Linked DNA regions of Homo sapiens. The protein of the gene in region 1 interacts with the protein of each later gene in a pairwise test. Each region holds a gene or a part of one and is shown in the gene's direction. Other genes may lie near its edges.

Evidence for each region.
Region 2: the proteins of EIF5A2 (region 1) and NIF3L1 interact in binary tests that used the Homo sapiens proteins (3 or more experiments, as listed by UniProt).
Region 3: the proteins of EIF5A2 (region 1) and DHPS interact in binary tests that used the Homo sapiens proteins (3 or more experiments, as listed by UniProt).
Region 4: the proteins of EIF5A2 (region 1) and SDCBP interact in binary tests that used the Homo sapiens proteins (3 or more experiments, as listed by UniProt).

What each region holds. Positions count from the first base shown.
Region 1 is NC_000003.12:170,897,724-170,905,912, reverse strand, and holds part of EIF5A2 (eukaryotic translation initiation factor 5A-2), read left to right. Parts: intron 1-8,189. UniProt on the Homo sapiens protein: Translation factor that promotes translation elongation and termination, particularly upon ribosome stalling at specific amino acid sequence contexts.
Region 2 is NC_000002.12:200,898,515-200,904,758, forward strand, and holds the end of NIF3L1 (NIF3-like protein 1), read left to right. Parts: intron 1-870; coding exon 871-954; intron 955-4,979; coding exon 4,980-5,164; 3' UTR 5,165-5,411; downstream 5,412-6,244. UniProt on the Homo sapiens protein: May function as a transcriptional corepressor through its interaction with COPS2, negatively regulating the expression of genes involved in neuronal differentiation.
Region 3 is NC_000019.10:12,678,040-12,686,459, reverse strand, and holds the start of DHPS (deoxyhypusine synthase), read left to right. Parts: upstream 1-4,579; 5' UTR 4,580-4,693; coding exon 4,694-4,900; intron 4,901-5,089; exon of another isoform or gene 5,090-5,346; coding exon of another isoform or gene 5,347-5,427; intron 5,428-6,134; coding exon 6,135-6,299; intron 6,300-6,537; coding exon 6,538-6,659; intron 6,660-6,740; coding exon 6,741-6,837; intron 6,838-6,916; coding exon 6,917-7,003; intron 7,004-8,420. UniProt on the Homo sapiens protein: Catalyzes the NAD-dependent oxidative cleavage of spermidine and the subsequent transfer of the butylamine moiety of spermidine to the epsilon-amino group of a critical lysine residue of the eIF-5A precursor protein to form the intermediate deoxyhypusine residue.
Region 4 is NC_000008.11:58,562,813-58,571,001, forward strand, and holds part of SDCBP (syntenin-1), read left to right. Parts: intron 1-2,206; coding exon of another isoform or gene 2,207-2,221; coding exon 2,222-2,272; intron 2,273-8,074; coding exon 8,075-8,153; intron 8,154-8,189. UniProt on the Homo sapiens protein: Multifunctional adapter protein involved in diverse array of functions including trafficking of transmembrane proteins, neuro and immunomodulation, exosome biogenesis, and tumorigenesis.

The sequences.
Region 1 (8,189 bases):
TCTTGCAAGTGGGTTTTTTTAACCAGGTAGATCTGGGTTTGGATCTAGTTCTGTCACTTTCTAGTTGGATGATTTTGGACAAGTTATACACCTTTCTGAGCCTGTTTTCTCATCTACAAAATAGTGATAATAGGAGGATTAAATGAGAAAATGTACCCCATTAAGAACTCCATAAGTAGATACGTACCAAAAAGTGCTGTTCTGTTTCCCCCTTTTCCTATGTAAAAATTCTACTTAATCATTTCATTATTGTTGGAGCACCAACTTTGATGTGGTACATAGTAGGTGCTCGAAAAATATTTGTTAAATGTATATGTGATTACTGAATGTGGTAGAGATAGTACAGCAGGCTAAAGTTGAGCGTAGAATGTTGTCAAAATTGGGTTTCTCTTTTCGTCTTAAAGTATGAAAGCTTTGACTATTCAATATTAATTATATTCAGTAATATTCATTCAATATAGAATGCTTTTGCCTGTTGCATGTTTCAGAAAGATGGTATCAGCAGTTCAGATAATTACTATTATACTATGATAAGGTTAGCCAGTCATTGATTGGAGCTCAAGACTTAAAGGAAAAATTTGGTTTGGGTCCTAGACTAGGATGAGGCAAATGAAGTGAGGGAGGCTCTTGCCTCAGGCACAAAATTTTAAATAAAGACAGAACTAGTAACAATGACAAGCCATATAGGAGCTCAAGGCGCAAAGAAAATTAATTCTGATCCCATCTTTATTTAGAATTTTGGTATTTTATCATAGGATTTTTGCATTAATTCTAATTTTTTAAAATATTGCATTAAAATGCCTATCTGATCACTGAGGTTTTTTTGGTGCCTTCTTTAATTTTGCACCCAAGACAAGTGTCTTACTTCACCCTTGTCCCAACCCTTGGTATGTACTCCGCACTGCAAAGTGGATAAGAGGATGATTTAAGCCAGGCAGGCCTGGTCCTAGTCTTACTTTGGCACTTAATAGCTGTGTGACCTTGGTTGACAAGTTACTTAACCTGTTTTGCTTCCATTTCTTTCTTTATAAAGCAGAGACATAAATAATAACGCCTCATGGGATCATTTTGAGGTTTAATTAGTTAATACAACAACGCCTGGCATAGAAAGTATTCAGTATTTCTCTGCTCTTCATTTTCAAGTCAGCATAGAAAAATAACTTATTTCTGTTAATTGTTTAAAAAACTAGTTCTCCAACCTGGGCAATGTGGTGAGACGCCATCTTTACAAAATACAGAAAAAAAAAAATTAGCGAGGCATGGTGGTGTACACAGCTGTAGTCCCAGCAGACCCAGAGGCTGAGGTGGGAGGATCACTTGAGCCTTGGGAGGTCAAGGCTGCACTAAGCTGTGATCACTCCACTGCACTCTAGCCTGGGCGACAGAGTGGGACCCTGTCTCAAAAACAAAAGTTCTGTGGGCCTTTCTATTTATATTTATTGTGCTATGGTGGTCTTCACTTACCTAACCAAGTGCCTTGATTAAATATCTACTCATTATTTGGCGTGTGTAATCCTTTATGTTTGCTGAATTCAATATTTTGAGTGCCAGTTCGGCAGTTGGCTAAAGAGAAATATGTATTCTGTTCATTATGATAATTAAAAAGTAAACAGGAAACAAAACGTATTAATATTTATAGTTTTAATTTTATGTGTTTTAAAATAAGTTCAGAATGAAAGAAAAATTGTCTCCTAACTTCTCTTTCAAGATTAGCTTGGATTAGAATTGCTCATTTACATTACTTCTCCCAAAAGTAGTTATAGATGTCCGGGACTGAGTGATGTTGAAAATTATAAATGCATCCAGATAGACCTTTGGGAATCCCCAAATTCATACAGAAATGCTTATTCAGACTTTAGCACTCTCTGGAATCATATTTCTTTAGAAAGTTCTGTGTTGATATGAACTTCACCACAAGTTAAATGCCGTTTCTGCATTTACTACAGTTTTACCTGTCATTTGAAAACCATTTTCCAGAAGGAAGACTAATTACTATAGACACATAAAGTATATATTGTAGACCTTTGGATTATTAGTGAATTGCCAAAACTGTGACTATTAAATTCTAGTATATTCTTCAAATAAGTAGTATATTATTTGAATGTTTAGATATGTTAATTGAATTCAAATAAGTAGTATATCATTTGAATGCTGAGATATGTTAATTGAATTCAAATAAGTAGTATATTATTTGAATGTTTAGATATGTTCATTGAATTCCTTGAGCTTAAAGTCTTTTTATAATTTTTACCTGTTTCATGGGAATCCTTGTGTTCTCAGATGGAAGCAGTCTTTCTTTGGAAATAGAAAACCTCTAAAGCAATAGGGCCCAATGTTGCGAGGACTAGAAGCAAATATTTGTTACAGGATCATTAAGGGTAATCATGAGAAGAGCCACTAACTTTAGTTCCTAGACCTGTGTATTCTACCTATAGGAAAAATAGCATCATATATTGAAATATATTGTAACCTGCAAAAAACAGCACTCCAGGCCAACAAAGTACCATTCAGCAGGTGCCATATTTGAGTCTTCACTAGGCTGATCCACAGAGGCAAGCTGTTTTGGAATGATAGGGTACGTGAGCCAGCGAATTATCTGGGTGTTGCACTGCCTTGTTACTTTGCCTGTAAAATTAGTTTTCTAGTCAGAAGTGATGCAGTGTGAGATACTATGACAGGAACGAGGCATTCTGTAAATTGAGATGAGATTTTAGCAGAAGCACTGCAGGCAAGAAAGGCAAATCCATATGCAGAGTAAAACTATTGCAATAAGAAAAAATTGCTGCCTGTTTCATGATGGAAGGGGTACAGTCAGGTGGCCAGCTGTTCTGGGAAACATATTAAGACTTCTTGTTCTTCTGTTCTGTGTTCTTCTTCTGCCATATCAAGACTGACCTGTTTCTGTGAGGTTTTCAGTAGTGGCTGTAGTCAGATCAGTCTTGGTGAGAGAAAGCCCGTGTCATTGATCCCACTGAGCAAAGATGAGAGAAGCTACAAAAAGAAGCTGAGGCCGGGCACAGTGGCTCACACCTGTAATCCCAGCACTTTGGGAGGCCAAGGCGGGCAGATCACGAGGTCAAGAGATCGAGACCATCCTGGCCAACATGGTGAAACCCCGTCTCTAATAAATACATAAATTAGTCAGGCGTGGTGGTGCATGCCTGTAATCCCAGCTACTCAGGAGGCTAAGGCAGGAGAATCACTTGAACCTGGGAGGCGGAGGTTGCAGTGAGCTAAGATCCCGCCATTGCACTCCAGCCTGGGCAACAGAGCAAGACTCCATCTCAAAAAAAAAAAAAAAAAAAGGAAGGCTTCTGTACATCTCTACAAAAAATACAAAAATTAGCCGGGTGTGGTGGCAGGCACCTGTAACCCCAGCTACTTGGGAGGCTGAGGCAGGAGAATCGATTGAACCTGGGAGGTGGAAGTTGCAGTGAGCCAAGATCACACCACTGCACTGTAGCCTGGTGACAGAGCAAGACTCGGTCTCAAAAAAAAAAAAAAAAAAAAAAAAGGCTGAATGGCATTCACACATTAGCTCATAATCAGTGCAAATCCACACTTCTGGTTCTGTCTTCTTTCAGGTCCAGTGCTTGAAGTTCTTCCCAAACCCACTTTCAGGTTGACCCCTGAATGGTGTCATCATATAATGCATAACCATCTAGAAACCATTGTGAATATTTTCCTTTCTCAGTCAGCTGGTCATAGGCAACTGTCCATCTAGTCATTGGTATCAGTTGAAGGAGAAGTGTCAGTGTGGTAAGACAAAGTGTTTTCTGAGTCTGAGCCACTTCTTATACAACTTGTTTGTACCTTTAGGTCCTTCTCAAGCTGATCTCATATATGCTACTTCCACTCAATGATGGAGAGCTGCTGTGCGTTCCCAGTTGTGTGGCTTGATGGGTCAGATGATGGGTCAGGTTATGGTGGTGTTATTTGCTTAGGCTGTACAATAATAGTGATAAAGCATTCAGTCTCTCAGATCACTGTATAATAATAGTGATCAAGCATTCAGGGACCAGCAACTCTAAGGAAGTAGCACAAGAGTGCTACACTCTGGGGGAAAAGAAGGAAGAAATAAAAAGGAATAGGTGTTACCTAAACAAGTCTGGTTGTTTTGAAATAGATTGAGAAACAAAATTAAATTCAGAAATTAGAACTAAGAAGGCACCTGTCCAGGCACTGTGGCTCACGCCGGTAATCCCAGCACTTTGGGAGGCCGAGGCAGGCGGATCACGAGATCAGGAGTTCGAGACCACCAGGGAGGTGGAGGTTGCAGTGAGCCAAGATTGCGCCACTGCACTCCAGCCTGGCGACAGAGCCAGACTCCATCTCAAAAAAAAAAAAAAAGAAGGCACCTGTAGGGATAATATACCTTCTCCAGCCTTCTGTTGTATATCAGTAGTACAAATGCAGGCAAAATAGTTTCCCAATAATTCCCCCTTTTCAGTGTTCTTTCCTATTCTGACTACATCTAAGACAGAATCTGCAGTCATTAACTCTCCCCACACTCCCTTTTAGATCATGTTTTGCTTCCTTAGCTTACTGTGCCTCCCAGCACTTAGTGGTTACAGTGCTTATTCTAGAATTCATATATACTATAGCATTTTTTGTTTCACTTTTTATTGTGGAAATTTTCAAAGTATAGTATAATGAATCCTGTGTACCTGTCACTCAGCTTCAACAATTACCAGTGTGATTAATTCTGTCTCTGCAATTTTTTGACAAAGACACTGGATCATTTCTTCTGTAGACTTTCCCACTGTATGGATTTTGCTAATTGCATTTCCTTGTTTTTTAACATGTTCCTCTGTCCCTTGTGTTTCCTGAAACTTGGTAGTAAGATATAGAGTCTTAATCAGATTCAGTTCAGATTTTTATTTTCTTCCTTTCTTTCCTTTAGCAGGACTACTCCATAATGTTCTATGCAATCATTAGATAAATAAGTCTGATTGTTTCTCCTTTTGTGATATTATCAGATATGTGAATACTGCCTCAACATATTAATTGGAGGAGAAAAAATTTATGATCTGTCATTCCTTCATTTGTTTCTCTTAGCCAGAATACTTCTATAAAAAGAAACTTCCCTTCATCAATTTTTGTTTGTTTGTTTGCCTTAAGAGACAGTACCAGTGTCTGTGCGTGTAGCGGGGGTGGGTGTATTTGACTCTTTCCCTTTAAGGTACAGTTTATAAAATAAATTGGTTCCTAGCATCCACTAAAGATGATGAAATACATATTTTTTTCATTATAAACTCGAGCATTTAAACATATTTGTGTTTCAATCCATTGTTGTTAGTGTCCTTATTTATTCTCACATTGTTCCATCTTGGCCAGTGGGAGCTTATTCAAGTTAGCTCTTGAGTCCCTTTGACATGGGCCTAATTTTAATTCTCCTTGATAGCTCCTTGCTTTTTAGTACAACAGCTTCTCCAGGTTCATCTTACACACTTCCTGATCTGGACCTGGAATTATGCAAGGAGCCCTAGAATATTTTAGTAGGAAATAAAAAATACCCCATTCTTTTTTTTTTTTTTTTTTTTTTTGAGATGGAGTCGTGCTCTGCCACCCAGGCTGGAGTGCAGCGGCGTGATCTCAGCTCACTACAACCTCTGCTTCCTGGGTTCAAGTGATGCTCCTGCCTCAGCCTCCCAAGTAGCTGGGACTCCAGGTGCCATCACATCTGGCTAATTTTTGTATTTTTAGTAGAGACGAGGTTTTGCCATATTGGCCAGGTTGGTCTCGGACTCCTGACCTCAAATGATCCGCCTGCCTTGGCCTCCCGAAGTGCTAGGATTACAGGTGTGAGCCACTGCACCCAGCCAAAAATACCACATTCTGATAGCCTTATAACCTTATATACTGCTCAGGAGCTTGGTACGCCTCCACATGCCTAACATCTCTAAAGTTTTTTGACCCTCACCTCTGCTGTCTCCCTGCTTGCTACTAACAATAATTACTTTCTACCAAAAAAAAAAATGTTCAAAAACATCTAAAAGTGATCAAATCAGTAGGTTTGTTTAAAGGTAAAGGACCAGAAGAAGATACTTACAACAATTTCCTTACCATCCCCACCTTCCAACTCTATGGAGTCAGAGAGGCCTTTGAGAGAAGATAGAAACATTTGCACAAAAATATGCTTGGGGACTTGACGATGACACTGTTGGCTTTTTTTTTTTCTTAAAGCTTGCAAATTACAAAGGGGGAAAGTGTAACTTTGGAGTGGAAAAATCTGGCAGATAACTACCTTAGTCAGCATATCAAAGTTGGCATCACTTGTAATGGGACAAATTGACATTTGCCTCCTGATAGGATACTCTGAGGACACATCATTTGTATAGTATTCCTTTCAAAAATGCATTACCTTTATCATGAGGAAACAGTGAGACAAACACAAACTGAGGAATATTCTATAAAACAGTGAACCCCCAGGAGTTTGAGACCAGCCTGGGCAACACAGGAAGACCCTGTATCTACAAAAAATAAAAATTAAAAAAATAAAAAATAAAAAAAATCCCAACAGGCATAGTGGTTGTATGCCTATGGTCCCAGTAACTCGGGAGGCTGAGTTGGGTGGATCACTTGAGCCCTGGAGGTTGAGGCTGCAGTGAGTCATGATCATGCCACCACACTCCTGCCTGCATGAAAGAGCAAGACCTGGTCTCAGAAAAACCAAACCCCCCAAAAAACAAAAAGATACCATGAAAGTTAAAGGGTGGAGGAAACTGTTAGAATTAAGAGACTAAACTGACATGATAGCCAGATAAATACAAGGTATGACCCTGGAGTTAGGGAAATAAGTTGCTATCCAGGACAATACTAGGACAATTGGCAAATTTAAATATGTACTATATATTGAATAATAGGTTATCAATATTAAATTCCCTGATTTTGAAAAATAAATTGTTGTTATCTAAGAGTATATCCTTGTTCTTGAGAAAAATACACTGAAGTTTTAATTGCTGAAAAGTCATGGCTGTTGCACTGAAGTATTTATTGCTGAAGAATCATGATCTTTGGAACTTACTCTCAATAGTTCTGTAAAAATAATAAGAATATATATGATATATATATATATTGGATGTATACATAGAGAAAATAGTGCACATGTGATTAAATGTGAACAATGGATGTATCTAGGTAAAGGATATGGGATTTCATTGCATTATTGCAACTTTTCTATAGAACTTAAGATTTTTTAATAAATAATTCAATTTAAAAGATTGTATTAGTCCATTTTCACACTGCTATAAAGAACTACCTGAAACTGAGTAACTTATAAGAAAAGAGATTTAACTGATTCACAGTTCCACATGGCTGGGGAGGCCTCAGGAAACTTACAATCATGGAGGAAGGTGAAAGGGAAGCAAGGCATGTTTTATATGGCAGCAGGAGAGACAGCAAGCAGGGGGGATCTGTCAAACACTTTTAAGCCATCAGATCTCATGAGAACTCACTTACTATCATGAGAACAGCATGAGGGAAACTGCCCCCATGATCCAATCACCTCCTACCAGGTTCCTCCCTTGACATGTGGGGATTATAATTCAAGATGAGATTTGGGTGAGGACACAGAGCCAAATCATATTATTCTGTCCCTGGCCCCTTCCAAATCTCATGTTCTCACTTTCAAAACACAATCATGCCTTCTCAACAGTCCCTGAAAGTCTTAACTCATTCCAGCATTAACCCAAAAGTCCAAGTCCAAAGTCTCATCTGAAACAAGGGAAGTCCCTTCCGCCTATGAGCCTGTAAAATGAAAAGCAAGTCAGTTACTTCCTAGAAACAATGAGGATACAGGCATTGGGTAAATACTGTTATTTCAAATGGGAGAAATTGGCCAAAACAAAGGAGCTACAGGTCCCATACAAGTCCGAAACCTAGCAGGGTAGCCATTCAGTCTTAAAGCTCCAAAATAATCTCCTTTGCCTCCATGTCTTACATCCAGGGCACACTGATCCAAAAGGTAGGCTCCCAAGGTCTTGGGCAGCTCCACCCCTGTGGCTCTACAGGGTACAGCCTCTGCAGCTGCTTTCACTGGTTGGTATTGAGTGCCTGTGGCTTTTCCAGGCACATGGTACACCATTCTGGAATCTAGAAGATGGTGACCCCCCTTCTCACAGCTCCACTAGGCAGTGTCCCAGTGGGGACTCTGTGTGGGGGATCTAACCTGACATTTCCCTTCCACA
Region 2 (6,244 bases), on another chromosome or scaffold:
TGGGGACACAGAGCCAAACCATATCAGTAACTTATCTAAAAGTCCAGTTAGATCAAACAACCCAAGGGAGTTAGTGTCCAAAGAAAATGGATAGCAGAGGTGGGATTTGACTTCCAAAATAACTCCAAAGCCCCCTCTTTGAGATACCCTGCTGCTGAACTGGAGTGTCCACTAAAGTGTTCATTTTAGAAACCCAAGTGCTAAATACTTGGATTTTGGCTCGAAAGTTGCTGTTATTTCACTTTCCAGAGGATGCTTTTTGAGAATAAATAGTATATTTAAAAATAGTGCCAAATCCATTTGTAGCATTCCTCTTTTTATAGTCCTTTTAGTTCCTTAGCTTCCTCACCTGAGAATAGAGATAGTACTTGCTTACCTCTCACTGTTGTCTGAAGACCCAGGTGAGATTATTTTACCTAGCACTGTTGCAATACAGCCTAGAGCTGCACCATTAGTACTATTCAGTGGTTTGTGAGTTTGTGCAGCCATGTCCAAAGGAATAACGGTGCCCCCTTCAGCAGCACATATACTAAAAATTGGATGATATAGATTAGCATGGCCCCTATGCAAAGATTACACGCAAATTTGTGCATTGTTCCGTATTTTGCGCAATTTACAAAGGTTGTTGAAAAAAAAAAACACAACAAAGGAATAATAACCATGCCTTGGGTTAGCTATGCAATATCAAAGAATGACCTGTTTGCTTATATTAAAACATGTTTTTTTTAAAATGCAGTAAGAACAATTCATATACTGGTGATGAGACCAGGAGTGAAATCTGTATTATGTTTAGGATTCTTGGTACAAATTATAATAGTAAAATGAAAGGGAATTGTAAAGTATTGGTCTCTTGTTTCCTCTGTTTTGAAGAGTCTCAAGTCAAAGTCGTGGCCCTGTGTGCTGGTTCTGGGAGCAGCGTTCTGCAGGGTGTTGAGGCTGACCTTTACCTCACAGGTAGGACAGACTTTGGATCTCTCTTGGTTTATTTTTTGCAAAATCAAAAATGGCAAATTTTAGGACAGTACCTGGCACATAGATGATACCTAATTAATGTTTTCTGAACCTGAACTAAACAGAAACTACAACAGAACTGGGGACTTACTGCATTCTTTGTGGAGGGATGAAATCATTGAACAGTTTATTACATTATCTCAAAAGTTAATGGTCAGCATTTATTTTACCTACATTCTTCCTAAACTGTCCCAAACCTCTCAGATTTCACATCAGTGGGATACTTTCTACCCTGTCACCTTAGCTAGGAAATGGTTCCTTTTACTCAGCCTAAAGCCAATCATCAATTCCTATCAATTCAAGCTCCCAAATCTTTCTAGAATCTTCCCCCTTATCTCTATCCAGGCACCATCTCCTACTTGAAGTACAGCATCAACCCTCTAATGGTATCTTCCATATACTCTCCTGAAATTAACTTTTCAAAGTGCAAATTTGATGGTCTTGATTAAAAAGACTTCAGTGATTTCCTTCATCTGTCTGGTGGAGCCTGAACATTGCATCCCCTTTCCTGTACCCTTTGCTTATGCTGTTTTCTCTGGCTAGAATGCCTTTTCCTTGTACTCCTAGTGATAAGTGAACACCCCCTCTGAGAAGCCTTCTCTGACACTGTCCTGCTCCTGCCTCTTGTGGGTCCCTATCACTTTGTCCTTGACCTCCAATGTGCACTTCTGTTGGATAGTAATTGTCTGGCTGCTGGGCCTTATACTTTCTCATTTAGGATACTACCTAATAGGTCCTGGCTAATTTTTATTGAAAGAATTACTTTATGTAGTTACTACTCAGGAATATGGCCAAACATGGCCCCTTACACCTCCAAAGGATTTGGAGGCATTTTAAGGGGTTGCCACTTTGTTTACCTCCTCCTTCTTAGGGTTAGGAGAGAATGAGTTAAAGAATTACTTTTCCCACTTTGAGGACCAGGCTCTAGGCTCTTAGCCCTCTGGCCATTCCTTTGGCTACTTCCATGCTTCCCTTGCCTCCCACACCCACACTTTGTTATATAGCACACTCTCTTACAAAGGCTGCTGCACTCAAAGCATTGTCACATCCTGAAGTACCGAGGAGCAGCATCTGAGCAAGCCTGATGGAATTGCTCTAAACCAATAAATTGATTTAAAAAAACAAAACATGTATGTGACTATTACTTATTTTATATTTTCTGAAGATAAAAGATTTTTGTAAGCCCTTAAATTTCTACCAGATTAAAGTGAAATTTCAATATGAATATCTTACAGTATTGTGTCTGGCTATTTTAAAATTCATTTTAGCATTTTACTTAGGAATTTCAGACCTATGCAAAAGTTGCAAGAATAGTATACTGAACTCCTATATGCTCTTCACCTTGGTTACTATGGTTATATTCTGCCATATTTGTACATTCCCTATGTGCATATTATATATGTGTCTATACACATTTGTGTTTGCATGTATAGATACATAATATATACAAGTTAAAATATGTTCTATATATATATTGATGTATTTCCCCTAGGACCATTTTGTAATCAATTGCAGACATGACAATTTCTTTACCTCTCAATACTTCAGTGTATAGTCTAAGAACAAAGACATTCTAAGTCCATGGAACAATTATCAAACATGGGAATTTAATATTGTTAAAACACTTACTTGATATACAGTCCATATTCACATTTTCCCAATTGATAAAAGCTTATAGCATTTCTTTTTCTGATCCATATCCAGCCAATGATCTCACATTGCATTTAGTTGTTGTTAGTCTCCTTCAGTCTGGAATAGTTTCTCAGCTTTGTCTCCATAGCATTGACATTTTTAAAGAGTATAGGCTCTTTGTTTTGTGCTTCTCTCTCAATTTGGGGTATCTGTTTCCTTATACTTTTTTAAAAACTAGTTTTTTAAAACAATGATAAAGTATAATGATACGTGCATAAGATAAATTCAAGCAGTTCCAAAATGTTAAAATGTCCTTCCTATCTGGCTGTGGGGAGAAATAGAAAATATATTATCCGGCTAGCATTAGCTGTCTCTGGTCTGTGAGGCATCACTTTTGAGTATAACTTCAGAGATGTGAAGCCCCACCTAAAGGACCTCTGCTGAACTTCATCACGCTTCCTGTGAGCCTGAGGCCGTGTTCTCATTGTATTAGGTTGTTAAGGGTAATACCCCGTAAGACCAGCAGATGGGGAGCCTGCTCCTTGTAAATTAAGTTCTCCCATTTGTCTTTTCATTCTCCATTTGCTTATTCTTTCCCAAGCTGCCATCCTGGGCCAAGCTTTTCTTTCCATTGGCTTCAGCTATTATTGCAGGGTCTTCACTGATTTCCCCCCTTTCATGCCTTCTCCAGCCAATGAATTTGTCACAGTACAGGCAGCCAGACTTACCTTTCCTAAAACAAGGCTTCCAACTGGGCCATCTTAGTGTCTTTTTCTTGCTTTTTACTTCTACTATTATAGATTAAGATGTTTTAAAAGGTGCTTGAATAAAAACTGTTCCTTATAATGAGATGACACTTATTAGGAGGAGATTGTGGGGAACTAAAAAATTCTGGAATTAAGAAAACTCATTTTTTTACTTATAGGTGTTTTCTTATGGGAAAATTAAAAGAGAACTCATTTTTTTCCAAGAACCCTTTTTTCTTAAATTTATATGCCCTTCTGTCTCTAAATACAGTTCAAAATTGTACTTTTTAAAGAACAAACCTAATTGTACACAGTACAGTTTTGCTCTTAAATTAGAAGTCATCAAATTCACAAACTGCATTTTAAGAAATTCAGAATATTAGGCTGGACATGGTGGCTCACGCCTGTAATCCCAGCACTTTGGGAGGCTGAGGCGGGCAGATCACTTGAGCCCAGCAGTTCGAGACCAGCCTGGCCAACGTGGTGAAACCCCATCTCTACTAAAAATACAAAAATTAGCCAGGCATGGTGGTGGGTGCCTGTCATTCCAGCTACTCGAGAGGCTGAGGCAGGAGAATCACTTGAACCCAGGAGGCAGAGGTTGCAGTGAGCTGAGATCGTGCTACTGTACTCCAGCCTGGGTGACAGAGCAAAACTCCATCTAAAAAAAAATTAACAATATAAATTAAAAATTCAGAATATGAATTTTCCCCAAATCTTTTCACAACAGATGAGATTCCCTCCAGAGTTTCTAGGGATTTTGCTTAAGTCAAAGAAAAATACTTTGTTTTTAACCTGGAAGTAATCTTAAATTCATTTCATCCTTATATATTAGACTAAGTTGACGACAGAAATACTGGTGCTTACAAAGCATAAGTCTGCTGGGCAGTATACATATAATTTCCTCCAGAGGTATTTATTACTTACATAAGAGGCAAATTTTCTGAAGGCCTCATTTTACTTGGCAGTGATCATTCATTTTACCGTGGAAACACTTTGAATGGGTGTTTACAGATCTGGTTCTGGCCAGATATGTTGGATTGGATAATTGCCTTGGGGTCTGCTAAGGAAAAAGAAGTTGGAATTCTCAGTGGGATGGATTTTATTTTTATATTTTCAAGATAGTCTTACTCTGTCACCCAGGCTGAAGTGCAGTGGTGCAGTCTCGGCTCACTGCAACCTCCAGGCCCTGGACTGAAGCTATTCACCTGTCTCAGCCTCCTGAGTAGCTGGGATTACAGGCACGCACCACCACGCCCAGCTAATTTTTGTGTTTTTAGTAGAGATGGAAGTTTCACCATGTTGGCCAGGCTAGTCTAGCACTCCTTAGCTCAGGTGATCTGCCTGCCTAGGCCTCCCAAAGTGCTGGGATTACAGGCGTGAGCCACCGCGCCCAGACTTTTCTCTCTTTTTAAGTTGGAGGACATAAAAGAAAACTGTACACTACTTTCTAGATTTATATGTAAAACAGTTCTGCTCTATTACATTCACTTCATATAGACTACAAACTTGGTATTTCTGCTTTTGTGTTTCCTCATTCCACAGATTCCATATTTAGCATTTAAGAATTTGCTCTTCCCTTTTTGGTAGGTGAGATGTCCCATCATGATACTTTGGATGCTGCTTCCCAAGGAATAAATGTCATCCTCTGTGAACACAGCAACACTGAACGAGGCTTTCTTTCTGACCTTCGAGATATGCTGGATTCTCACTTGGAGAATAAGATAAATATTATCCTATCAGAGACTGACAGGGACCCTCTTCAGGTGGTATAATTGCAGAAACATCAGGATAACACATTCTACAAATCAGCTGGATGCCAACTTAAATTTGTAACATGAGTCAGTGGGACTGGTGTGCTTCCAGAGAGTGTCTTCGAGGGTATCATCATTTCCGGTTTGTTAATCTTATTCACCAAATGTTCTATCGCTCGTAAGGTAAAACTGTAATATAACTACCATATTAAATAACAAATGTTCATTATAAACTCTAGGAAAGATTGAATAAAATCTGTTTACTTAACATTCTTTGGAAGGAGCTCAAGTGATTCTGTCCTTAGTTTAATTGTAGATGGGATGGATCCATTTGGGTATCTCTGCCCTTGGTTAGTTAACATTATGCTTGAAAAACTTGGGCTTGAACACTTCTAGGTAGTAGCCTTTTTGCAGTGATAAGAAGTTCTGTTTGTCCTTGTTCCTAGTTCTGCCTACATTCCAGTCTCTCACCTAAATTTCAGAATCAGAATGAGATTTATCAGGATGTTGTTTTGAAAATATGTATACACAATCATTATTCATATTACTGTTACTTTATTGCTTTTTAGATGACTTACCTGTAATTTTTTTTTCTTCCACAGTCCTTTGTTCCCGATTTCTGCTCTGTCACTTCCCTCTCCTGGCAATGAACTTGGCTGCCGCAGGCAGGGGGCAGGGCCAGGGAATGAAATTCCAGAGCAGAAAGAACAAAGTCAGATATCTCAAAATATCATCCTGCCCCATTTAATCTGGGCCTTTTATCCATGTGGATGCCCCTTTCTAAACAGCACCTGCGCTGGGCTGCGAGGCCCCTGCCTGCCTGCTGCTGGTTGGGCAGGGCAGATACACCTTTCTCCACCTGAGGACTGCGTTCTCAGGTAATCTGGCTAAAGCAATATTCCCTCCATTTTAGGCATTCTTAGATTGCTTTTATGATTTGTGCTATTTTACCATACCACATGTAATTTTTACTTCATGCTTTTGTGTAAAGCAACTTTTTCTCTTTTTGTTTATTTTTTATTGTGGTAAAATTCACATAACATAAAATTCGCCATTTTATTTTCCTGCCCCCCCCTTCCAAAATTCACCATTTTAAAGTAT
Region 3 (8,420 bases), on another chromosome or scaffold:
CATGGAGCTGCCTTTCTAGTTAGGCAGGGATGGACAACAGAAAATGTACTCAGTGAAAGAGTATACATGTGAAAGGGCATATGAAAGAAGAATAAAATCAAAGTAAAGGGGAGAGGAGTGGTCAGGGCAGGCCTCTCAGAGGAGGTGACATTTGAACTTAGGCCCAAAGGAGGAGAAGGAACTGAGAAATGGGGTGTTCTAGGCAGAAGGAGCGGCAAGTACCTGACTCCTTGGACAAAAAAGAGCTTGGTGGGTTCCAGGAATAGCAAAGAGGTCTGTGTAGCTGGAGAGGAGAGAGGGAGGGAGGGCCAGCATGGTGGGAGATGGCAGCAGGGAGGTTGAGAGGTGCCCTTTAAGGCCACTGTGAAAAGCTTGGATTTTACTCCCAGGGGGAAGCTACCATTAGGAGGTTTTAACAGTGACATGTTTGATTTATGGTTAAAGAGCTGTGGCATGCACCTGTAGTCCCAGCTACTGGGGAGGCTGAAGTGGGAGGATCACTTGAGGCCAGGAGGTCGAAGCTGCAGTGAGGTGTGATTGTCCCACTGCACTCCAGCCCTGGTGACAGAGTGAGACCCTGCATCAAAAAAAAAAGCTCAGCGGCTGGGCACGGTGGCTCATGCCTGTAATCCCAGCACTTTGGGAGGCTGAGGTGGGCGGATCACGAGGTCAGGAGATCAAGACCATCCTGGCTAACATGGTGAAACCCCGTCTCTACTAAAAATACAAAAAATTAGCTGGGCGTGTGGCGGGCGCCTGTAGTCCCAGCTACTTGGGAGGCTGAGGCAGGAGACTGGCGTGAACCCGGGAGGTGGAGCTTGTAGTGAGCCGAAATCACACCACTACACTCCAGCCTGGGCGACAGAGCAAGACTCCGTCTCAAAAAAAAAAAAAAAAAAAAAAAAGCTCTCTGATTTTAGCTGTTAGGTGGGAGATGGGTTGGAGGATACCAAAGCCAGCTTGCAGGCTATGGGGATAAAGAAAACACCTGGATTTCGGACCTACTTTATAGGTAGAGGTTGGCAGACATGCTGAGAAGGATGGATGTGGGGTGTGAGAAAAGGGGAGACAGCAAGCTGCGCTCCTCATTTTTAATTTTTATTTATCTATTTTTGAGACGGAGTTTCGCTCTGTTGCCCAGGCTGGAGTGCAGTGGCACCATCTCAGCTCACTGCAACCTCCACCTCCCGGGTTCAAGTGATTCTCCTGCCTCAGCCTCCTGAGTAGCTGGGATTATGGGTGTGCGCCACCACACCCGGCTAATTTTTGTATTTTTTAGTAGAGACGGGGTTTCGCCATGTTGTCCAGGCTGGTCTCTAACTCCTAACCTCAGGTGATCTGCCCTCCTTGGCATCCCAAAGTGCTGGGATTACAGGTGTGAGCCACCGCGCCCAGCCCCAATCCCTATTTTTCAGTCTAGTGGATGAGTGGAGGGTGGGGCCGTTTGCTGAGATGCAGAAAGATCAGGGATAGGTGGAGAGGGAGCTGAGGGGGCAACTTTGAGGTCCAAGCGAGGATGTCAAGGAGGATGTCTGTCTCCTCCAACAAGGTAGGCTCATTCCAGCCTCACGGCTTTTGCTGTTCTGTCTTCCCATGTGCAGGAAATGGCCTCTCTGCATCTTCACATACGGGGATTTTCTCAGCCTTCTGGCTTTGGCTCAAATCTCACCTCCTTGGCGTCCTTCACCCATCCCTCCAACTAAAATCCCGAACTCCTCCACCTAAAGACTCAAATTATCCTGTTTAAATCCTGATTGCGCTGGGCGCGGTGGCTCACACCTGTAATCCCAGCACTTTGGGAGGCCGAGGCAGGCAGATCACCTGAGGTCAGGAGTTCGAGACTAGCCTGACCAACATAGTGAAACCCCATCTCTACTAAAAATACAAGAATTAGCCGGGCGTGATGGCTCATGCCTGTAATCCCAGCTACTCGGGAGGCTGAGGCAGGAGAATTGCTTGAAACTGGGAGGCAGAGGTTGCGATGAGTGGAGATCGCGCCATTGCACTCCAGCCTGGGCAACAAGAGCGAAACTCTGTCTCCAAAAAAAACAAAAAACAAAAAAGGCCTGATAGCACTCACCACTATTGTTAACTTTCTATCTTCCCAATCAGATTGTGGGCTCCAGTAGGGCAGGGTCCACATCTTGGTCTTGTTCACCACTAAATCCTTAGTGCCTAGCACGGAGCCCACCATAGAGAATAGACTACATGAATTGTAGAGTGAGTGAATAATCCTGTTGGCCGTATGCACTGTTAGGAGGGTGTGTTTGAGATACAGATGACACCCAGGGTCTCACATTCTTGCAGGAGGGAAAGAGACGTCAGCCCTGGGTCCCAGAAGAGGCCACTGACCCAGTGGGAGTTCAGGGAAGGCTTCCCAGAGGAGGTGGAGGTGACAGCTGCAGCTATAAGGGAAGGAAGAACAGAGCGTTATGCAGCATGTGAAGGCTTTGGAGACTTGTGAGGGCACGAACCGGGCTCACTATCCCATTAGACAAAAGTGGCTGAGGAAGGATGAAACTGTGTCTAACTCTGCCTGGTGACCGAAATCTTGTCCATGGGTGACGCTTAAGAAGTGACCCTCGGCCGGGCGCAGTGGCTCACGCCTGTAATCCTGGCACTTTGGGAGGCCAAGGCGGGCGGGTCACGAGTTCAGGAGATCGAGACCATCCTGGCTAACACGGTGAAACCCCATCTCTACTAAAAACAGAAAAAATTAGCCGGGTGTGGTGGCGGGCACCTGTAGTCCCAGTTACTCGGGAGGCTGAGGCAGGAGAATGGCATGAACCTGGGAGGCAGAGCTTGCAGTGAGCCGAGATTGCGCCACTGCACTCCAGCCTGGGCGACAGAGCGAGACTCTGTCTCAAAAAAAAAAAAAAAAAAAAAAGTGACCCTCATAAAAAAATTAGCTGGGCACGATGGTGCACACTAGTCGGAATGCTGGGGTGGGAGGATGACCTGAGTCCGGGAGTCAGAGGTTGCAGTGGGCCGAGATCGCGTCACAGCACTCCAGCCTGGCGACAGAGTGAGACCCTATCAAAAAATAGCAGCAGGCCAGGCGCGGTGGCTCATGCCTGTAATCCCAGCACTTTGGGAGGCTGAGGCGGGCGGATCACGAGGTCAGGAGATCGAGACTACCCTGGCTAACACGGTGAAACCCCGTCTCTACTAAAAATACAAAATATTAGCCGGGCGTGGTGGCCGGCGCCTGTAGTCCCAGTTACTGGGGAGGCTGAGGCAGAAGAATGGCGTGAACCTGGGAGGCGGAGGTTGCAGTGAGCCGAGATCGTGCCACTGCACTCCAGCCTGGGAGACAGCGCAAGACTCTAGCTCAAACAAACAAACAAACAAAACAGCAACAACAACAACAAAACCATCCTCCCCTCCCGAGGGGACAGAACAGAAACGAATGGGCGAGTGCCGGGCCAAGCAGTGGGTCTCCAGCAGGTGGCATTAAAATAGGAATTTTGGCTGGGGACGGTGGCTCACACCTGTAATCTCAGCACTTTGGAAAGCCCAGGCGGGCGGTCACCTGAGGGCAGAACCAGCCTCGCCAACATGGTGAAATGCCATCTCTACTAAAAATAAAAAATTAGCCAGGCCTGGTGGTGGGTGTCTGTAATCCCAGCAACTCGGGAGGCTGAGGCAGGAGAATCGCTTGAACCAGGGGGGCAGAGGTTGCAATGAGTCAAGATTGCACCACCGCACTCCAGCCTGCGTAACAAGAGCGTGTAACTCTTGTCTCAAAAATAAATTAAATAAATAAATAATAAAAATAAAAAAGAATCTTCATTCATGGGAAGTCGAGAACACATGAAAACAAGTAAAGGCCGAAGCGCAGTGGCTCACGCCTGTAATCCCAGCACTTTGGGAGGCTGAGGCGGGCGGATAACCTGAGGTCGGAAGTTCGAGACCAGCCTGACCAACAGGGAGAAACCCCGCCTCTACTAAAAATACAAAATTAGCCGGGCATGGCGGTGCATGCCAGTAGTCCCAGCTACTCGGGAGGCTGAGGCAGGAGAATCGCTTGAACCCGGAATGTGGAGGTTGTGGTGAGCTGAGATCGGGCAATTGCACTCCAGCCTGGGCAACAAGAGCGAAACCCTGTATCAAAAAAAAAAAAAAGAAAAAAAAAGGAAGAAAAGGCCTAAAGGCGCCGGGCGCGGTGGGTCACGCCTGTAATCCCAGCACTTTGGGAGGCCGAGGCGGGCGAATCACGAGGTCAGGAGATCGAGACCAGGTGAAACCCCGTCTCTACTAAAAATACAAAAAAATTAGCCGGGCGTGGTGGTGGGCGCCTGTAGTCCCAGCTACTCGGGAGGCTGAGGCAGGAGAACAGCGTGAACCCGGAAAGCGGAGCTGGCAGTGAGCTGAGATCGCGCCACTGCACTCCAGCCTGGGTGACAGAGCGAGACTCCGTCTCAAAAAAAAAAAAAAAAAAAAAAAGAAAGAAAGGGCCTAAAGGCTCCTCGCGGCTTCCGTATTACGGAACACACGCACAAAAATGGCGGCGACCTGGTTTACAGGGGCTAAAAATGGTCACGTGATAAACCAACTTCCGGTCTTTCGCCCAAAGCACGTTCCCTACTTCCTGTGCTCTTGCGGAGACGCGCGCGTCGGGGTTTAACGCGTTTCTGGGCCGCCGTAAGCCCGGCCTAGGGGCAGCTTTGACTCGAGAGCCGGCTATAGGCGCATGGAAGGTTCCCTGGAACGGGAGGCGCCAGCGGGGGCGCTGGCCGCCGTGCTAAAGCACAGCTCGACGTTGCCGCCCGAAAGCACCCAGGTCCGGGGCTACGACTTCAACCGCGGTGTGAATTACCGCGCACTGCTGGAGGCCTTCGGCACCACCGGCTTCCAAGCAACCAACTTCGGGCGCGCTGTACAGCAAGTCAATGCCATGGTGAGGACCGGGCGGAATTTCTAGGGACGCGGAGGGGCGTGGCTTGTAGAACCAACGCGGTACTAGACGGGGGCAGCGTTTCCAGTGGAGGGGATATGTCTTTTATTTGAGTTGCCCAATAGTTGGAGGAAGGCGGGACCTATTCTGGGCGGGAGTTTCTGTCCTGGGAAGGGGATTTTGCACTCTGGTAGTTACATGCTGGTACGGTAACCTGAGGAGGCGAGGACTGATTCTTGGTGTGGGGGCGGGTTCTAGGTACATTTAAAGCTTTCTGGAATGGGCGGAGCCTGGGGCAAGACAAATTAAGGGAGGATATGGGAGGAGGAGCCTAAGTCTGGGCGGTTCTTGAATTTAGATTTGCTTTTCCCAGCGGGGAAGGGACCGGATCTGAAAGGAGATGCTCTCTGATTCCTAAAAGGGTGGGGGCTGGCTGGGCGCGGTGGCGCATGCCTATAATCCCAGCATTTTGGGAAGCCGAGGCGGGTGGATCAAGAGAAGAGGAGTTCGAGACAAGCCTGGCCAACATGGTGAAACCCTGTCTCTACTAAAATGCAAAAAATTAGCCGGGCATGGTGTTGCGCGCCTGTAGTCCCAGCTACTCGGGAGGCTGAGGCAGGAGAATCGCTTGAACCCGCGAGGTGGAGGTTGCAGTGAGCTGAGATTGCGCCACTGCACTCCAGCCTGGTGACAGAGCGATACTCTGTCTCAAAAAAAAAAAAAAAAAAAGGCCGGGCACGGTGGCTCATGCCTGTAATCTCAGCATTTTGGGAGGCCGAGGCGGGCGGATCACCTGAGGTCGGGAGTTCGAGACCAGCCTGACCAACATGGAGAAACCCCGTCTCTACTAAAATGCAAAAAATTAGCCGGGCATGGTGGTGCGCGCCTGTAGTCCCAGCTACTCGGGAGGCTGAGGCAGGAGAATCGCTTGAACCCGGGAGGTGGAGCTTGCAGTGAGCCGAGATCGCGCCATTGCACTCTAGCCTGGGTAACAAGAGTGAAACTCCGTCCAAAAAAAAAAAAAAAAGGGTGGGGGCAAATCCTGAACGTGTGTCTTGAGATCTGGTCTGGGAAGGGGCAGAGTTTACACAGGAGATGTTCCTTGGTCCCCTGTAGAACTGGTCCTGTATCCCTGAATGTGCAGGGCCTGGGGTGAAATCTGTTTCTGGAGCCCACCTGGAGTCCTGAGTCTGGGATTTAAGGCCAGTGCTTAACTTGACTTGGCCCTTACTCACAGATCGAGAAGAAGCTGGAACCACTGTCACAGGATGAAGACCAGCACGCGGACCTGACCCAGAGCCGCCGCCCACTTACCAGCTGCACCATTTTCCTGGGATATACATCCAACCTCATCAGTTCAGGCATCCGTGAGACCATTCGCTACCTTGTGCAGCACAACATGGTGGGGACCTGGTGAGGCCGTGGCCTTGGCCTCTGGGTCAATGGGCAATGCAGTTATTGATCGTTTAAGTGAGATGGGCAGATAGGGGTCTGTTATAAGCAGAGGAATAGAATCAAGTTTTGTTTTGTAGCAGAGCTCCCTCATAAGAGTCACTGGACAAGGATGAGGTTAGAAGTTCTGCCCAGAATGAGGGCAGGGGCTTCCTTCTTGGGCCAAATTCACTGCCTTGTGGCTGCAGGTGGACGTATTGGTGACCACAGCTGGCGGCGTGGAGGAAGACCTCATCAAGTGCCTGGCGCCCACATACTTGGGCGAGTTTAGCCTCAGGGGGAAGGAGCTCCGGGAGAACGGGATCAATAGGTGAGAACCCTGAGTGGTGTTGGGCAGGGGAGCTGGACCAAGGGTCCTGGGGCCTGATGCCTACATGCCTCCTGTTCTCAGGATCGGAAACCTGCTGGTGCCCAATGAGAATTACTGCAAGTTTGAGGACTGGCTGATGCCCATTCTGGACCAGATGGTGATGGAGCAGAACACAGAGGTGGGGCTGGGGCAACCTGGAGGGGCCAGTTCAGTGGGAGTCAGGGGAGGCATGGCCTGAAGGTCACATCCTCTCCTAGGGTGTAAAGTGGACGCCTTCTAAGATGATCGCCCGGCTGGGCAAGGAGATCAACAACCCAGAGTCCGTGTATTACTGGGCCCAGAAGGTGAGGACCTAAGCGGGAGCAAAGTAGCCAGACTTTGGCATGTGTTAACTTATTTCATCTTTCCAGCCTCCTGGGGATTCAGTACTGTTATTCTCAGCATCCTCACTCTTAGATGAGGAGACTCAAACACAGATAGGCGTGGTAATTTTTTTTTTTTTTGAGACAGGATCTTGCTCTGTCACCTAGGCTGGAGTGCAGTGGTGTGATCACAGCTCATTGCAGCCTCAACCTCCTGGGGCCAAGCAGTCCTCCCACCTCAGCCTCTCGAGTAGCTGGGACCACAGGCACATGCCATCATGCCCAGCTAATTTTAAAAATTTTTTGTAGAGATGGGGGTCTCCCTGTGTTTCCCAGGCTGGTCTTGAACTCCTGGCGTCAGGCAGTCCTCCCACCTTGGCCTCCCAAAGTGCTGGGATTACAGGCGTGAGCCACTGTGCCCAGCCAGGCTAGGTAATTTTGTCTGAAGTCACACAGATAACTAGTGGGGCCTCAGCATCCTTATGCTCCTCCCAGACTATCTCTGGAACAGTAGAGGCAACACTTAGCAACTCTCCTGGGGCCTGGCTCAGGGTCCCACACTCCCAGATGCTATAAAATAAGAGCTACCCACTCCCTTTAATTAGAGAATCAGAACCTGAAAAAAAAAAAAAAAAAGCTACATAGTCTTTTTTTTTTTTTTTTTTTTTTTGAGACAGAGTCTTGCTCTGTCGCCCAGGCTGGAGTGTAATGGTGTGATTTCAGCTCACTGCACCCTCCACCTCCCAGGTTCAAGTGATTCTCCCGCCTCACCCTCCTGAGTAGCTGGGACTATAGGCACCCACCATCATGCCCGGCCAATTTTTGTATTTTTCTACAGATGGGGTTTCACCATGTTGGCCAGGCTGGTCTTGAACTCCTGACCTCAAGTGATCCACCCGCCTTGGCCTCCCAAAGTGCTGGGATTACAGGGGTGAGCCACCACACCCAGCCTACTTACTCTTTCTTTTTTACGAGACAGGGTCTCATTCTGTTTCCCAGGCTGGAGTGCAATGGCACAATAATGGCTCACTGCTGTCTTGAGCTTCTGGGCTCAGTCGATTCTCCTGCCTCAGCCTGCTGAGTAGCTGGGACTACAGGTGCGTGCCACCATGCCTGGCTAATTGTTTTTGTAGAGATGGGAACTCACCATGTTGCACAAGCTGGCTCTTTTTTTTTTTTTGAGACGGAGTTTTGCTCTTGTTACCCAGGCCAGAGTCCAATGGCGCAATCTTGGCTCACAGCAACCTCTACCTCCTGGGTTCAAGCAATTCTCCTGCCTCAGCATCAAGTTCCCAAGTAGCTGGGATTATAGGCATGTGCCACCACCCCTGGCTAATTTTGTATTTTTAGTAGAGGCAGGGTTTCTCCATGTTGGTCAGGCTGGTGTCGAGCTCCTGAC
Region 4 (8,189 bases), on another chromosome or scaffold:
AGAAGAAATATAGATTCAAATTTGTCAGAATTAAAAACCTCATATTGCAAAATGCACTGTGAGAAAAAATGAAAAGACAATCTACAGAATAAGAAAAGTATTTGTAAATCATATATGATAGTGGTCTATGATATGGTCTGAATGTTTGTGACTGTGTCCCTCCATTCATATGTTGAATCCTGTAATCATCAAGGGGATGGTATTAGAGTTACCATATGACCCAGCAGTTGCATGCTTAGCTATATTCCAAGAGAATTAAAGATGCATTTATTAAAAAAGTATATAAACTTACATATTATTTGCTAACAATGCAAATGCTCATTGGCATTTTTAACAGCATTATTTATAATAGCCAAAAGTGCAAATAACCCAAATGTCATCAGCTGATGACAGCATAAATATAATGTGGTATACATACAATGGAATATTATTCTGCTATGAAAATGAATGAAATACTGATACATGCTCCAACACAGATGAACCTTGAACATATGCTATGTGAAAGAAGCCAGATGCAGAAGGCCACATATTCTAAGATTCTAGATTAAGTATCCAGAGCAGGTAAAAACAGAGGCGGGAAAGTGTATGTTGCCTGGAGCTGGAAGGAGGGTAGAATGGGGAGGCATGAGTTTTCTTTTGGGGAGGATGGAAATATTCAAAGATAGGTAGTGGAGATGATTGTAGAAGTCTGTGAATATACTAAAAACCATTGCATTATATACTTTGAAAGGCTGAATTTTAGAGTGTGTGAATTAAATTTAAAAAAAAAACTATCTCATACTGTCCAACTAGGAGACAGAGACCATATAGTGATTTTAACAGTGGAGGTTTAATACACAGAATTACTAGTTATAACATGATTGAAGAAATAGAAATTGACTTGTAAGAAGTAAAGACAACTTTTAAGAATACTGTAAGAGCAGACTTAATAAGTAGCCACTAACTCTAGGGCTGTTCCCATACTGGGGCTGAGATTCAGGTCTGGTTGAAGAGGGGACAGATGTCACTGGCAGATGCTGAAGTTGCCGGATACCATGCTTCTGGAACTTATTCTCCCTCTGGCATTCTGAACCTTGGAATTTGCTGCAGAAGCCACGTGAAGGGGTTGAGAAAGCTGCTCAGGGAGATTCCTTGGTGGTGGCATTCTGCTGCAGAGTTACTCAATAGAGTGCTGGGGTGAGCTTCTGCATGCTTGTGAAACTACTCCTGGCAGGAGTCTGGCTAGAGTAGTACGTTGGAACCATGAAGAGAAAAGCTCTTCCTCCTACAGTGTACCTCCAGTTGCCTCTACTGACAAGGCTTAACATCATGCCAGCTGGTAACAGAGCAATGTTGAAAGAGCTCAGCTCCATTTTGGGAGAGAAAGCAATAAGAAGTGGATTTGGAAATGGGAGGTAATAAATTGATACCTGAATCAAGAATCTTACGTTAAACCACATACCAGTTTAGCATATATTCTGTTTTATTGGGTTGAGTGAAAGTATCAGGTATTCATCTCAAAACAGCTAAATAAAATTTAAAATATGCATTCATATAATACATTTAGAGAATTGTGTTTTAAATTATTACAAAAAGCAATTTATAACTAAAAAACATACTTCTACTTAATACAGAAGTATTTTAAATGAAAAGTAAAAATTTCCCTCTTATTCCTCACTCCTTTACCATCTGTCTTCTGAAGAAAAATCTGTTAGCAGTTGATATAGTTTCTTCTGTATACATATATGTGTGTATATATTTTTCTTAGTAATAGAGGTTCATGTATTGATACTGCATATGATCTGCTTTTAGGCTTTTATTGTTAGAAGGAAATGTAGCTGTGTAATGCCCAAGGGCATTGTACTAAGGGTAGTTTCCTAGTCCTGGCTAAGTTGCAAGTACTTGTGTAAGTTAGGAGTAAGTCACATAACTATTCTATTTGATTTTCTAAATTTGTAAAATGAAGGGACTTTTACTTGAATTTTAAAAATCGGTGATGGATATAGTTCAATAATACTATTAGGGGAAGGAGAGGTAGTTTGGTAATTCTTAAGTATCAGCTAACTTTTAGTATGGCCTATATATTCTTATTTTTTAATATGTTTTGCAATTTAAATGTTTTTTATTGAGTTAAATAGTTCTACTTGTTTATGTGTCTGTGGTTAGCTGTGTATACTATTTCAATTTCTATGACATTAGAGTAATAAAACTTTCTTTTTTTCTTTAGAAGAATCCTGCAAAAATGTCTCTCTATCCATCTCTCGAAGACTTGAAGGTAGACAAAGTAATTCAGGTATGATAGTTTAAATACTTTTGTCAAAACAAACACAGTAACATGCATTCTACTTATAGGTGAAATAAAGCAAGATAGCTAAATAGCAGATATATTTGTTCATTTTTACACTTCATAAACCTTTTTTTAGTTTTATTAATTGCAGACTGAAAAGTTTACAGAAAAATTAGCAATTTTTTTTTTCATTTCACTGTGAATTAATAGGCATGAGATTTTTTTAATTCGACTTACACTTTTTACATTTCTGGTTAAAATTTAATTATATGTAACATATTTGAGTTGACAAAATATACTCCAATTTTGTAGATATTCATAGTTTTGTATAAAATTGGTATATTTTTCTTTTGGATCTTTAGGTATGACCACTCTTTAATTCTATGTCTCTTAACTGAAGTTAAAATTACAGAAATAGTGGCGTACATGCTGCTTTTAGAAGAGCAGTCATGTAAGAGCACAGGGAAAGTGTAGTGATTTCTTTCCTTTGAGAGATGAGCAGCAGACATTTCACTTGTTCATTCTCTAAATGACTGTGTAGAGATTGCAGTATTTCTAATTGCATTGAGTTGAAAATTTTTATACTCCTTTGTATAAGTATTAGCTTTGAAGACAAATGCTTCTGCTTAAGAACAAAGTGAGGAATTGGGACCAATTCTGGCTAATTGGGAAATTTTTGGTAATTATTTTAATTGGGGGTAATTTGTAGTATATGATGAATTTGTTTACGGTTAGCTTTCAACTTGATCTCTTATCAATTTAGAATTTCTTCAGCCGTTGTTTATTGTTTTAATTTGACAAGATAAACGAAAACTCCTTACCCTGAAGATCATTTTATTGGGTCCCTGTCTTCAATTTACTAGAAAGTGAGATATTCAATTTACTTACTGATAATTGAATTATGAACAATTATTTTCTATCATAGATCCAGTATGGATATTAAAATGAGGTTTGTAAAATCTCTAAAATCTACAGTTCAGCTGCCAAGGCTTTGATGCCTCAAAGTTTCAAGTGGCCTATTCAGTCATCTTTTACATGTTCCTATCACTTCTTTAGTATTTTGTCAGTATTTTCTTCATGTGGTTTTTATTTCCACATAGTTCATCTAAACAAGCACTTTTCTTTTTAAAAGGCCTTTATCTGAAATATTTAGCTTTCCAGAATAACTGCTTAGCCATTAATATGACATCAATACATTAACTGATAAGGATTTTTAGATGGACCTGTAAGAATGACTAATCTGTTCTTTGTTTTCATCCTTTTTTTGTTAGCTTTTTATGGAATTGAATGTAAATTCACCATAGTCAGATATGAGCTGAGGCTTTTGGTTTTGAAAACAGCAGCAGCAGAAGAGTTGATATTGACAAATATTGGAATGAAAAATAAAGAGGGCTACAATCTGTATCATGCTGCCCTCTTTAAGCAGAAGTGAATTACATAGATATTTACATTAAAGAACGTTTTATGTTCAGAGCAGAAAGCAGCTGGGAGATAGAACAGTGAATAAGGAGTGGGAAACATGGTTCTTTTATTACCCCTGAATTTAAAAATATTCCTAATTTAGCCATTAAACTCTTTGGCTGTTTTTGTTTTGTTTTGTTTTGTTTTTTTGCATCATTTTCTAAGGTGGATGATACTCATGTTTGTTTTTATTCTTAAGATTCTCCTGAAACGGTATTATGAAGGAAGGTAGTATTCATTTTCTCATCTGCTGGCCTTTAACACCACAGCAAAGCTAAATTACAGCAATGAACCAACCATTCATATTTTGTAAACTATTCTGCAGTAGCCACTAGGCTGTGGCTTTTAGCATCATACAGTCCCTAGACCTTTTTCTCTCCATTCCAAATCCTGACAAGAGCCTGTGGTTTCCTCTACTTATGCAAAGTAAGCTTTTAATAAATAATGATATACAGAACCAGAGCTTATCAGTTTCCTAATATGGTGGGCAGAATTTGGCAGCAGTGACGCTACAAGCATGTTTTTTCCACATCCTTTCTGTTAATGGCAGAAACAATAGGCCCTGGCATGCTCCTTGGGGCACCCCAACCCCTTTTTTTAGTAGTGTCACATTTCAAAGTAAGTTTGAAATAAGTAGCTACATTTAATGGTTTACAGTACTTAAAATTGGGTTACATCCTTTTGTTTCATTTTTACTGCAAATAACATAATTAAATTTAACTTTGCAGGGAGCTTTCTATATGTATTCTTCAGTATTCCTTGGATTAAAAACAATAGCAATGAAAGAACAGAAATTCATAACTACATACAAAGGAGAAGTATTTTAAATTAATAAGCTGTGTTTTAGAGCAATTTTAGATTCACAACAAAATTGATCAGAAAGTACAGTATACCTTCTGTCCTCACACATGCACAACCTCCCCCAGTATCAGCATCTGCACCAGAGCAGTACATCTGGCTCATTAATATCACCTGAAGTCTACATATTTACATTACATCACATTAGGGTTCACTGTTGGTGTTATATGTTCTGTGGATTTTGACAAATGTATAGTGACGTGTATATAGTCATGTGTTGCTTAAAGACGGATATGTTCTGAGAAATGCCTCATTAGACAGTTTTGTCGTGCAAACATTATAGAGTGTACTTCCACAAATGTAGATGGCATAGCCTACTACACATCTAGGCAGTATGGTATAGTCTGTTGTTCCTATGCTACAAACCTGTATGATCCCACCTGTATGATACAGTAATACTGCATGTTACTGTACTGAATACTGTAGGCAATTGTTACACAATAGTATTTGTGTATCTAAACACAGAAAAGGTATGGTAAAAATACAATGTAAAAGATTTAAAATGGTACATCTGTATAAGGCACTTACCATGAATGGAGCTTCCAGGACTAGAAGTTGCGCTGGGTAAGTCAGTGAGTGAGCGGTGAGTGAATGTGAGGCCTAGGACATTATTGTATACTGCTGTAGACTTTATCAATACTCTATACTTGGGCTGCACTAAATTTATTTAAAAATTTTTCTTTCTCGAATTATAAATTAACCTTAGCTTCCTGTAACTTTAATTTTTTAACTTTCTGACTCTTGTAATAACATAGTTTAAAACACAAACATTGTACAGCTGTATAAAATATTTTCTTTCTTTATATCCTGATTCTATAAGCTTTTTTCCTATTTTTTAAATTTTTAGTTTTTAAAAATCGCTTGTAAGTTTGTTAAAAACTGAGACACACACTCACATTAGCCTAGGCCTGCACAGGGTCAGGATCATCAATATCACTGTCTTCCACCTCCACATCATCCCACTGAAAGGTCTTCAGAGGCAGTAACATGCATGGAGTTGTCATTTCCAATGGTAATAGTGCCTTCTGGAATACCTCCTGAAGGACCTGCCTGAGACTGTTTTACAGTTAACTTTTTTTGTAAGTAGAAGGATATACTCTAAAGGGTATAACACAGGAAATACATAAATGAGTAACATAGTCATTTATTATTATCAAGTATTATGTACCATGCATAATTGTAGATGCTATACTTTTTTATATATGACTGGCAGTGCAGTAAGCTTATTTACACCACCATCACCACAAAGTAATGAGTTGTTCTGTGTGACGGCAGCTATGATGTCACTAGACAGTAGGAATTTTTTAGCTCTTTTATAATCTCATGGGACCACTATTGTATATGTGGTTCATCATTGACCAGAACAGGCAGCACATGACTGTATACCATTGTAGCATTAGACAGAATAGGTTCACTGCTCGAAAAATTCTTTAATGCCTGTTCTTCCTTCCCTTCTAGAAACTCCTGGCAACCAATAATTTGCTTTTGCTTTTGTGTTTTCTTTAGCGTCAGGATGTCGCTCTGTTGCCCAGGCTGGAGTACAGTGGCACAGTCATGGTTCACTGCAGCGTCCATCCTCCTGCCACAGCCTTCTAAGTAGCTGGGACTACAGGCATGCACCACCACACCTAGCTAGTTTAAAAAGAAAATTTTTTTTTCCCCCAAAACGGAGTCTGGCTCTGTCACCAGGCTGGAGTGCAGTGGTGCGATCTTGGCTCACTGCAACCTCCTCCTCCTGGGTTCAAGCAATTCTCCCTGCCTCAGCCTCCCGGGTAGCTGGAATTAACAGGCATCCACCACCATGCCCGGCTAATTTTTGTATGTTTACTAGAGACAGGGTTTTGCCATGTTGGCCATGACAAACATGACAACATGCCATGTTGGTCAGTTGAACTCCTGACTTCAGGTGATCTGCCCACCTCAGCCTACCAAAGTGCTGGGATTACAGGCATGAGCCACTGTGCCTGGCCAAAACAATTTTTTGCATAGGCAGGGTTTTCCTATGTTGCCCAGGCTGGTCTTGAACTCCAGGCCTCAAGCAACTCTCCAGCTTCAGCTTCCCAAAGTGCTGGGATTAAAGGCCTCAGCCACTGTGCCTGGCCTAATATTTTATTATCTCCACAATTTTGCATTTTTCAAAATGTCGTATAGTTGGAATCATAAAGTATGTAGCCTTTTGAGATTGGCTTCTTTCACTTAGTAATATCCACTTAAGTTTCCTCCATGTCTTTTCATGTCTTTATAGTTCTTTTTTTTTTCCCAGTGCCGCACAGTATTTTTTTTGTTAGACATGATTCAAGAAGTAATATAACAAGCCACTAGCTCCTTTTAGCTAATCGGTGGTGAAAGAACTTTCAAAGTTCAACACATGTTCAATTTGTGGATTGTTATTTATAATTATAAAGATTTTCATGCTGTATTTTGTTTAAATCTAGAATGTTTAACAAATTATGAAATAATAAATATTAAAGGATGACTCAACAAGTATATCAGAACATATAATTTTAGTACCATTCAAAGCTTTCATAGGCTTTACTTATTTAAACTAAGCTTTCATATCTCCAAGCATCTTTGGGAATACTCTTGACATTGATTTTAGGGCTAGGTTGAGATACTACTATGAACTTCATTTTTAAAATGATACATTTCCAATAAAGTAAAAAGTTGGTAGAGATTGGTCATACAACTTATTACCAAACTTGTCTCTAATGACATATAGCTATTTCAGAAAGTCAGATCTAATTGTAAAGGATAAAGTATTTCCATCAGTGAGATACTTCATATGATGTAGGCCATCAAGACAGCCCTGAGAAGAGGATACTTGAGCATGAGTAGCATTGATAAATGCTAGAGTGTCAGAGTGTGTCAGAGTGATTTTGGCAAGTTTGTTTAACAGTTACAAATTACATTACCTTGTCATCATCGATTTATGTCAGTGATAAACTGTGCTATTTTCATAATTTCTGATATTTTAAAAGTATTTAGCATAAACCCCTTCCTATACTTGCTGCAATGAAGATAAAGATGATTTCAGTGGGACATGCTTAGTATTAATTTTTTAGGTGTTTTTCTGATATGTGACTTTTATATGAATATGGGTAAGGTTTTTTCTTATGCAAATAAAATATTTTTACTTGGACTAATTAGTAAAAGAATAATGAAAATGTAAAATTTATTCATTTTAGAATGCACTTTGAAAATATTAATTTATTGTGGCAGCACTATGAAGTGCTGGTTATAAGACATGTAGAATGGTACTTCTACAATTTTTTTGTGATAGCCTTAAAAGTATTTAGAATATCAAATATAGTTTTGATTTGCAGATTTCCTTTGGAAAATGTATTGCTGATGTGTTTGAAATTAAACTTTCTTACATAAATCTTCATTGTTTTAGTTTCTTTTTGGAAGTACTGGATTTAGCTTATAAATTATATAAGAATATAAAGTAAGTATAGCATATTGTTAGAATTTTCTTCTTTTCTTTTTCAGGCTCAAACTGCTTTTTCTGCAAACCCTGCCAATCCAGCAATTTTGTCAGAAGCTTCTGCTCCTATCCCTCACGATGGAAGTAGGTTTATACTTTGAGTTCATTCTCTGTGAACAG